2 separate regions of the Homo sapiens genome follow, and region 1 is linked to region 2. The links come from fine-mapping of genetic effects on gene expression. A gene starts in region 2. The other region holds a variant in brackets. All regions are shown on one strand. Distances are from middle to middle.

Region 1 (5,363 bases), 39 kb before region 2:
AGTAGCTGGGATTACAGGATTACAGGCACCCGCCACCATGCCTGGCTAATTTTTGTATAATTAGTAGAGACGGGGGTTCGCCATATTGGCCAGGCTGGTCTCGAACTCCTGACCTTGTGATCCGCCTGCCTTGGCCAAGGCCTCCCAAAGTGCTGGGAATACAGGCGTGAGCCACTGTGCCCGGCCTTTTTTTTTTCTTCTTCTTCTTTTTTTTCTGAGACAGAGTCTCCCTCTGTTGCCCAGGCTGGAGTGCAATGCCGCAATCTCGGCTCACTGCAACCTCCACCTCCTGGGCTCAAGTGATTTTCCTGCCTCAGCCTCCTGAGTAGCTGGGATTTCAGGTGTGTACCATCAATCCTGGCTAATTTTTGTATTTTTAGTAGAGACGGAGTTTCACCATGTTGGCCAGGCTGGTCTCGAACTCCTGACCTCAAGTGATTCACCCGCCTCGGCCTCCCAAAGTGCTGGGATTACAGGCATGAGCCACCTCGCCCAGCCCACGATTGCTTCTTAACCCAATAACAACATTAATCTTTCTTGTTCTTCCCATCTCCTAGGTAAATGTTATGAAGAATCATCAAACTTCCCCTGCTTCCGGATGGCGCCCAATTCAGAACCCACTTACATTCCTGGAAACCCTCCTTCGGCTCACCCAGCATGAGCCCACATCCTAGAGGCCTCTCCCAACTCAGTCCTTCCCGTCTGTGTGCACTCCCCAGTGGCAGCCCAAGCTTAAATGAGGGAATGGTCCTGGTGGTCCTCCGCTGGGGGCGCTGGGGCAACATGTGTTCATACATTCTTTATTCAATGACTTTTACAGTCTGACCCACACTTCTTCCTTTCTTCCCAAGGCTTCAGGCTGCCTCGTCCCAGGGTCCGACTCCATCTCCAGCACTCAGGCCCCCTAGGACTAGCCTAGATACACGGACCTCCTGGGATGGGGAAGCACTGTCTTAGCATTGACCAGAGGGGCAGCTTCTGAAGGCCTGACCTCAGCACATGCAAAGGGAGGAGTTCCCAGTCGGACCTGGCAGCCTTCCGGGTATGCGCCCCTGTCTGAGGAGCACACCTGCTCACTCTCAGGGTAGGCTGGACTGAGGAATTGACCGACCTCACCTGTTGGGTCAAGGTCAGCCTCTTTACTCTGTGTCCCCGGTGAGGGACAGGGCCCAGCCCTGATCAGGGATGTTCTGGTGGGGGGTCAGCTCTGAAGAAGCCATGGGGAAAGAATGCTAAACTCAGGGAAGCAAAGGGCAGAACTGAGGGTGGAGGTCAAAACCCATCCCTGCTCAGAAGAGAGGACAGGACCCATGGGGAAAGCAGGAACAGGCTGAAGCCCCACAGGTCATTCTGGACACCATGGCTGAGGCCACCCCCCGTGCCTGCCATGGGCAGATGCTTTATTCTCTTTCTTTTTCTTTTTTCTTTTTTCTTTTTTTATGCCTCACCTTGCTCTGCCCTGCCCTGCTTTGCTTCTTTTCTTTTTTTTTTTAGATGGAGTCTCGCTCTTGTTGCCCAGGCTGGAGTGCAGTGGCACAATCTCAGCTCGCTGCAACCTCCGGCTCCTGGGTTAAACCGATTCTCCGGAGTAGTGGGGATTACAGGCACCTGCCACCACGTGCAGCAAATTTTTGTATTTTTAGTAGAGACGGGGTTTCACCATCTTGGCCAGGCTGGTCTCGAACTCCTGACCTCATGATCCACCCGCCTCAGACTCCCAAAGTGTTGGGATTACAAGCATGAGCCACCACACCCAGCCTCTTTTCTTTTCTTTCTTTTTGACAGAGTCTCGCTCTTTTTGCCCAGGCTGGAGTGCAATGGCACCATCTTGGCTCAATGTAACCTCCACCTCCCAGGGTCCGACTCCATTTCCAGTGATTCTCCTCTTTCAGCCTCCCAAGTAGCTGGGATTACTGGCATGCACCATCACCCCTGGCTAATTTTTGTATTTTTAGTAGAGATGAGGTTTCACCATGTTGGCCAGGCTGGTCTCAAACTCCTGACCTCATGATCCACTCGCCTCGGCCTCCCAAAGTGTTGGGATTACAGGCATGAGCCACCGCTCCTGGCCTTTTTCTTTCCTTTTTTCTTTTTTTTTTTAGAGACGGAGTTTTGCCGTGTTGGCCAGGCTGGTCTCAAACTCCTGGACTCAGGCAATCCGCCTGCCTTAGCCTCCCAAAGTGCTGGGATTTCAGGCATGAGCCACTGTACCCAGCTGGCAGATGCTTTATAAATGCCTCCACAAGCCTCTGTTTTGGGGGTCTCAAGATCACCCTCGAGTTTGATGTTTCGCTAGAAGAGCTCACATGATTCAGTAGCAGGCTATATTCACGGCTAACCTTTATGACACAAAGGATACAAAGTCAAAGCGACAGTTAAGAGGTATGCCCGGGTGCTGGGAGGCCAAGGCGGGCGGACCACGGTGTCAGGAGATCGACACCATCCTGGCTAACACGGTGAAACCCCGTCTCTACTAAAAAAAAAATACAAAAAATTAGCTGGGTGTGGTGGCGGACACCTGTAGTCCCAGCTACTCCGGAGGCTGAGGCAGGAGAATGGCGTGAACCCGGGAGGCAGAGCTTGCAGTGAGCCGAGATCACGCCACTGCACTCCAGCCTGGGTGACAGAGTGAGACTCCGTCTAAAAAAAAAAAAAAAAAAAAAAGTGACAGGTGCGACTTGAACCTAAGGCCATGAGGGGAGGGCACATAACAGTTAAGAGCACGGACTCGGAGGACAGATAACACTGTTCCTAGTGTTGGTGCTGCTCTGAATCCCAGTGTTGCCATGAGCAATTCCAGCCCATCTGTAAACAAAAATAAAAATAATAAGACTTAGCTCAGAGGACTGTTATTGGAATGCATGAGATAGTTCAGTGAGGCCGGGAGTGGGTGGCTCACGCCTGTAATCCCAGCACTTTGGGAGGCCGAGGCGGGCAGATCACCTGAGGTCAACATGGGGAAACCCCGTCTCTACTAAAAATACAAAAATTAACTAGGCATGGTGGTG[G/T]GCGTCTGTAGTCCCAGTTACTCAGGAGGCTGAGGGAGGAGAATCACTTGAACCCGGGAGGCGGAGGTTGCAGTGAGCCGAGATGGCGCCACTGCACTCCAGCCTGGGTGACAGAGCAAGACTCCGTCGAAAAGAAAAGAAAGAAGGAAGGAAGGGAGGGTGCAGCGGAGGTGCCTAGTGCAGTGCATGGAACACTGCGTGTGAGTCACGCGTGCAGATGAGCGATCAGGATTATGGTGATGATGATGTAATAAGGAGAAGGGAGTGAGGAGGTGAAATTGCTCACCAGAACATCTCTTACGCTCCGGTGAAGTGGCAAGATGCGCACCTTCACTCCAAGGGGACTGCCCCAGCTCAACTTGGGGCACCCTGGCCTTCCAGCCCCCCAGAGCCCCTCCTCACTATGTCGGGAACAGCAGACAGGGCCTGGAGAGGTGATCCTGGCAGCCTCCTTAAGACAGGTCCAGGCTGTGGGTCCTGGCTTGTTGGCATGTCAGCTCTGATGGGGTCCACAAGGAAGGGAGGCTGGGGGTTTGGTAAGGGGAAGAGCACCTTGAAGGGCTCAGCCTGTGCATGCAGGGTGTATGGGCCTGGGGCACCCGGGGCCCCCATTGGTCTGTTCTCCTGTGCCCAAGAGGGGAATCAGTTCCCAGCGCCTGCAAACTATTCTAAGGCCCGGCCTGGGCTTTGGAAGCATGTCCCCAGGTGTTTATTGGGGGCAGGACTCCAATGAGGTCCTCTGCATGGCTCACCCAGAAGGGGTGGCAGTTCACTGAGCAGCCAGGTTGGTGGCCACCATCCAGCCCTCACAGGGGCAGCTCGACTCAGGCAGAGGGGGTGGAGGATGTCTACACCTGGCTCTGCCTCCCGTGGGCGGTCACCGTGGGTCTCTGGGCCTCAGTAGCCTCATTTGTAAACTGGGGCAATGTTTCAGTGAAAAGCAGAGGATGCAGATGGCCACTGGAGGCCATGCCAACCCACAGACTTGTGTTAACTGGCCCTCATGGAGCATTTTCACATTTTGAACTGGTTGCTACATGTTAACATCAGAAGGCATTTACCTAATATCTGAATTTCCAGCCTCTCTTTAAAGATGGGGTGGGGCCGGCTCTGTGGTCTGGCCACATGTGACTTGTAGTTCCACGAAGCCACAGGCGGGTGGTGCTGGGCAGCAGCCACCCCTGCAGATAGTCACCTCCCTTCCCAGTTGGCCACAGCCCCAGCGGCTACTGATTCTCCAGCACAGGCCACCACGGTGACTCTCCCACGGGAGTCAGAAGAGCCAGGTCGCACCGAAGCCTCCCCAGCTCCAGTCAAGGCTCCACCAAGTTCCAACCGTGCCCTGATCCTGCACAAGGGAAGTCACCCTCCCACCATCCAGCTGTGGACATGTGCAGGATGGATGGAGGTTGGGAGGGGGTGACTGCAGAGGCCCTGAGTGGGGCCATGCTGCTGGGTCCTCACCTTTCTCCTTCATGCCCAGGTTGGGGATAATGGAGGCCCCAAGGCAACCTGAGCGAGGTTGGCAGCCGCCTCCTGGCCTGGGGTTTGTGGCCAGAGTGGCGAGCACTTGGAAATGACACACGGGGGGCAGGCAGGCCAGGGATGGGCAGGAAGGAGGCTTCCTCACTGTTAGAGCCAGACGGCCTCAGGGACCTCCCTGGATGGGAGGGGTCCCCATCCGAAAGCTGGTGAGGTGGGGCCTCACCTGTCACCCTTGAGCACTGGGGACCCAGGATGTGGAGTGCTCAGCTGCACTGAATCTGTGTGGCTCCTGGGGTCCCTCTGGGAGGAGAAACAGAAGAAGCTCGGGGCAGAGGGGTCAGCGTGGCCAGGGTCCCAGTCCTTTGGCCCTTGAACTTGGCCTTTCCCAGACAGCCCTTCTTGGCATCCCAGCCTGGAATCCCTTTCCTTATCTTTCTTTGGCAAGCCCCTTCAAGACACAGTGGACAAATTTTCCCCTTCCAGAAGCTTCCCTTGACCCACAGGCAGAATAATTCCCTTTCTTCTGAGTGCCCTGTGCCTGGACGTTCCCTGCTATGCTGCTGGCTGGCTGCTCTGTATTGTGCTAAAATATTCACGACCGTGTCCCCACCAGGGATCCCGGAGGCAAGGGCCACCCTCCGTGTCCCCAGCACTTACGCCTAGGCCTGGCACACACAAACGTCGAGTACTTCTCATCCGTGGCTCGCGGGGCAGGGCCGGCATGTCCTCCTTGAGCCGCCCATGTCCCTGTGCTCCTTGCGCAAGCTGCAGGCCCACCCCCAGGAGCGAGGCCCTGTGGCGTCAGCGCCCATGTGCAGCAGGTCCAGGGGACAGGAGGGGTCTGCCTGATCTCAGAGGGGTGTGTGCGGG
Region 2 (5,363 bases):
GAGAGACGCTCCTGGGCACGGCCCTGCATCTTCCCTCCTCCTGGGCCCCCTGATCCAGACCAGGTCTCCTTTCTGGGCTGCCACCGGCTTCCTGCCTACCCACTCCCCTGGGCCTCAGACTTTAGTTCCAGCACGATCCAAGAGTCAGGACTCTACTTGGTTGCAAATGACAGAAGTCACTTCAGAGTACCTCAAGCAAAGATGAGAATTTATTGAGCCCTGATACTGAGAAGTCCAGGGATAAATCCTGGCTTCAGACCTGGCCGAATCCAGGGGCTCTGATGTGTATCGTCTCCATCCTAGATCCATCTGCCTTGCTCCGATTGCCCCGCTCTTCAGTGGCCTCTCTCCACCCCACTGCAAAAGTGATGAGAAGGTCCCAGCATCATCAGGACATTCTCCTACCAGCCACACCACTCAGGAGAGAATAAGCCATCTTTTTTACTTAAAAAAATTATTTTGTAGAGACAAGGTTTTAATATGTTGTCCAGGCTGATCAAGCAGTCCTCCCGCCTCCTGAGTAGCTGAGACTACAGGCACGTGCCATCACACCTGGATTTTTGTTTTGTTTTGAGACAGTCTTGCTCTGTCGCCCAGGCTGGAGTGTAGTGGTGCAATTTTGGCTCACTTCAGCCTCCACCTCCCAGTTTCAAGCCATTCTCGTGCCTCGGCCTCTCGAGTAGCTGGAACTACAGGTGCACATTACCACACCTGGCTAATTTTTGTGTTTTTAGTAGAGACGGGTTTTGCTGTGTTGCCCAGGCTGGTCTCGAACTCCTGGGCTCAAGCAATCCCAAAGATCTCAAACTTTTGCCCCCCAAAGTGGTGGGATTACAGGCATGAGCCATTGCACCCAGCGTGCCTGGCTTTTTTTTTTTTTTTTTTTTTTTTTTTTTACTTTTTGTAAAGATGGGTCTCCCTGTTGCCCAGGCTGGTCTCCAACTTCTGGCCTCAAGCAGTTCTCCCACCTCAGCCTCCCAAAGTGCTGGGATGACAGACCCAAGCCACTGTACCAGGCCAAGTTCATCTTTTCTGCTGGTTTCCCTCATGTGCTGGAGCAGGTCATCAACGTCCCAGCCTGGGCCATATGCTGACCTCTGAACCACTGCCCAGGCTGTGTGGCCAGGCCCAGGCCATCAACCTCCCAGATGACTCTCAGAGGGTTCTCAAAGCAGGAGTGATGCTAGGCCGGCAGCTGCTACAGACACATCCCCATGGGTGGTAGTGTGCACTCATGCCGTTCCTCACCGTGGACCTGTGACTCCTCCAGGAGGATAAAGGACAGATTTGGACCCTGCTAAGACCCCAGGGCTCCTGGGGTCTTGGTGCTATCAGAGGGCCTGTTGACATCACCCTGTCCCCGCCTCAGTTACAACAGTGGAGGCCAGTCTGGGCCAAACAACCTGATCTCCACATTCAAGTTCTAGCCCTCATCCAGGGGACCTTTGCACTGCCTGCTGCTCCCTCCTTCCTGGCTTCGCTAGGCTCTGGACCACCTGCACCAGCGCAGCCCTGCCCAGTCCCAGGCAGAGCCTGGCACCCTCTCCACCGCTGGCCCAGCCCCCTCCTTGTATCCTACCTGGAATTTTTAGCTCTCTGTGTAACCACGAGCTTAGTGTCTGCTTCCCCTTCACTTGTAAGTGCCAGGAGGGCAGGGCCAGATCTGTTCTCATTCATCAATAAGTCTCTTGCACCTGCACCCTGACAGGTGTGAAGTGGGTTCTTAGGAATGAGAGAAGGAAGGAAGGAAAGCGACCCTGCATAGTGGAGGGTTGGGGGCAAACGCTGCGGCTCCTGAATCGCTCTGAGATTTCCCAACAACAGGACTCACCCAAGCCCCCTCCTTCGCTGTCGTGGAGCCTCAGTTTTCCCAACCCTCCAATGGCACAACCTCCTTCCCCCAGGGCTTGCAGAGTCGCGGTGAAACTAGGGAGGGATTATGTTAGAAAAATGCTCTAGACGAGATGTAAAAATCTTTTTTTTTTTACACGACTGAGGAGGATCCGTTTAGAATTTCAGGATTTTTTTAAGAAAAAAAAAAACTTCAAAGTGCGCAAACGTTGGGCCGGTTCTCGTGACCTTCCTCGGGAGACGAGGGGCCCAGAGTGCAGGGGGAACGGGAGGGACGGCCGGGAACCAGGGCGGAGAAACGCGGGCCTTGGTGCCTCACTGGGGGGTCGGATTCCGACCCCAGGCGTAGGAACCCCCGGGTCCCTCGCGGGCCTGCAGCGCGAGGCAGATCTGGGGAGGGGGCAGCTCGGCGCGGGTGGGGTCGGGGCTTCCTGGGGCGCCTCCAGCTTCGTTCACAACCTGCGGAACCCTCGCCTTCAAGCTCGGGCTCCGCGGCAAATCCCAGGGTCGAATTCTGCCACCGCCGCGGCGTCCGGTTTTGGCAGAGTCCTTGTCTGCCTCCGGGAGCCTCGGTTTTCTCGTCTCTCCGCCAAGCCCGGGCGTTCTCTCCACGCAGGGTGAGGGCCAGGCTTAGAGGTCTGCGGAGCTCTGAAACAAGCCTGTCACTCAGATGGGAGCGCGGCAGGAACAGCGGCTCACGCGGGTTTCCGGAGCGCGCGAGTGATGCCGGACCCCTCGCTCTGCCCCTTACGCGGCCCGTCTGACTTCTCAGCACCCCGTGGGAGGGAGCTTCCCTGGGTAGCCCCGTTTCACAGACGGGAAAGCGGAGGCACAGCGCGATCGGGCCCTGCCCGGCTTCCACGCCTACTCTGGTTGAGTCGGGGTCTGAACTCGGGCCGTTGGTTGCCCTAAGCCCCGCTCCGGGATCTGGCGCCCGGCGCCCCAGCCTTACACGCCCGACCCGCGCCTGGGAGCCGCCCCTCGGCCCCCCTCCCTGGCTCCTGGGGGCCGGGTCCCGTCGTTGTCACGACAACCGGGGGCCAATGGGAGCAGGCGGGCGGGGGAAGCCCCGCCCCTTCCCCGCCCCCTTCCCCGCCCTCTCGGAGGGCTCCGGGTTATAAGGGCTGGAGGCCGAGCGGACGGGAGCTGGAGCCCGCGGAGCCCACGGAGCCCACGGAGCCCACGGAGGAGCCCACGGAGGAGCCCCAGCGTCCGAACGGGCAGACCCCCTCGAGCCGCGAAGGAGCCCGAGAAGCAGCCACGATGTGCGGTGAGTGCCGCGCCCGCCCGAGCCGCCTCCTCCACGCCGTCCGCGGGTCCCGGCGCCGCAGCCTCTCCGCGCCTCCGCCCGCAAGCAGGCGCCGAGGACCTGGCTGGGGGCGCCGATCTGCCCCGGGCCCCTACCGAGGGGCTGTCGTCGGCCGGGCCTGGCTGCCCCTCACCCGCGTTCCCCGAGTGGCCGTCTCGGAGGTGTGGGTGGGGGATGCCCAACCCGACTCCTGGTCTCGGACACAGTGAGGGGGACCGAGGCCCGGTCCCCACGGAGGGGAGGGACCTGGTCCGGTCCGGCCTGGACCCCGTAACAGAGGGGTCCCCACCCCATGCCGACCGAGGTCGCTCTCCTCCACGTCTCCCAGTCGCCCACAAAGGCGGCCACGCGCAGGCCGGCGCATCCCGAGTGCGGGGCGCCCATCCCGACTCAGCCCGCCGCGCCCACCGAGGAGAGGAGAGGCGACCCCGCCCCGCCGTCCCCGCAGCCCGCCCGGTCGCCCCCGCTGCGTCAGTGCCTCAGGCAGGGCCTGCGCGTCCTCCTCGCGACCCCAAAGGAACGTCTGGTCCCTAGAAGGGTCGCTGCCGCGTTACCGCCTCTTTGCGCGGGGAAGAGGCAGTCACTGCCCGAACCTCGGCCCGAAGCCACGAGAGGGAGTCCGGGGCGGGGAGCGGGGCCGGGCGTCCGATTCCCGCGGCGCTCCCGCGCTGTCCCGCGTGGCTGCGGGACCGTGGGGAGGGCGGCCGCGGCCCGGAGCGCACATCTGCAATTCTTTACTCTCCTGGCTGGGCCGCCTCCGCTGGCCGGGAGAGAGCCGGGAACTTCTGCTGGGACAAAAGGTCACTGTGCTCTTTTTTTTTTTTTTTTTTTTCCTTGAGTAGGATTCGGTTACCCATTCCAGCCTCCTGTGGCTGGAGGACCTGGAGGAACTTTCGAAGCCATGAAAGGCCTCTCTCTGACTTTGCTGAGGGCCGGGGTGGGGTGCGCCCGCGGTGAGCCCTGGCCGAGGTCTGTGCAGGCCTCTTGTCTCGGAGGCCAGCTGCTCGGCAGAAGGGAACGACCTACGGCGGAGCGGGCAGCGTGCTTCGGGATGCCGCCTCACCCAGGCTGAACAGGCATCCGTGGAAATTCCTGAACCCTCAGCTAAAATCTCGTGCTCCCAGACGCCATTCTCCATGTGTAGAGCCACCTTTGGGTGTTTCTGGGGGCAGAGATGAGGCAAAGGTGGTAGTTTTGCCAGATGTCCAAGCCCTGATGTTCCACACCTCTCAGTGTAGCATTCAAGACCCTTGGCCAAAACTGGTGGCCTTGGGGCCAGACTTGTGCAGGAGACCCTTGAACCAGGAGGGTCTGCCCACAGCACCAGAGGCTCCCCTTCCCCTTCCTTTCAGATGCTCCTCTGCCCCCACTGCCACCCCTGCCTGTCATCCTCCTTCCTACTGGCATCTTGCTTTTTCCCAAGTCTCTCTGAGCTTTGGGGGGGCTCTACCTCCTCCAGCTCACAAAATCACAAGTGTTTTTGTTCTGCTTCTTAAAGGGACACACACGCGTTGTCTCCTAGGGAAAGGTTGAGCTTTGGGGTGTGACCACCTGTATCTTCAGATTTTCTGGTACTGACTTGTGGTTGTATGTGAGAAGGAGCTTGAGGTCCCCAAAGGACACCCAGGGCTCAGGAGTGGCTGCGGTCCATGGGGGTGCCCACTCGGAGCCAGAATCAAAGAGTGCGTGCTGGCTTAGGTGCCTTCTCAGAATTCCCAGATTTGCTGATTTGGGGCTGGGGGCAGGGTGGGGGAAGTGGGGAGGGCACAGCTCAGCAGGAAGTCGTGGAATCCCTGCATGGGAAAGTTATTTCCTTTTCAAGAACATCAGGAGAAAGTTTCAACTTGGTGCTAACGTGTCCTTAACATCTCTCTGACACTTGCTTAAGTATCCTGTGCAGAGGGGAAGCCATTCCTGGCTCAGAGCAGGCAGCAGCAGCTGGCTAGAATTGAATACATTGGTCTGTTTGGGGGGGATGATGGTCTGAGTATGTATGACAAGTGATACTGATTTTCCTTTTATGGTTGTTTTCTTTTGGCATGAATTCATTTAAATTTTTGAAAATTTAATCAAATTCTGCAGAAGAAAAAGTAGTGATTATGCTATTAGTACAAGGATACTGCAAGAATCGTGAAGATGCTCCTAGAAAGAACCAGATAAGCTCTTCACTTTACGCTGGGGAAGCTGAGGCCCTGCGAAGTCT

Direction of the effects. Positions count from the first base shown, and alleles are read on the strand shown. Sizes are in standard deviations (SD) of each study's normalised expression.
As copies of T replace G in region 1, the expression in thyroid of the gene that starts at base 2,996 in region 2 goes up (small effect, 0.12 SD a copy in GTEx).

Evidence for each region. PIP is the estimated chance that this variant, and not a neighbour inherited with it, causes the effect. A credible set is the group of variants that fine-mapping cannot tell apart.
Region 1: its variant is the best candidate, but not a certain one, in a credible set for the expression of GFPT2 in thyroid (GTEx, PIP 0.90).

The regions. Positions count from the first base shown.
Region 1 is chr5:180,389,815-180,395,177 of GRCh38, reverse strand. No RefSeq gene overlaps it. Among named protein-coding and RNA genes, the nearest start is that of GFPT2, 39 kb to the right of the region's middle. The variant G/T (reference allele first, on the strand shown) is at 3,009.
Region 2 is chr5:180,350,969-180,356,331 of GRCh38, reverse strand. It overlaps GFPT2 (glutamine-fructose-6-phosphate transaminase 2), which reads left to right and starts at 2,996. Exons shown (of 19, transcript NM_005110.4): 1 at 2,996-3,121. The coding sequence starts at 3,115. RefSeq lists a silencer at 2,740-2,969 and an enhancer at 4,342-4,842.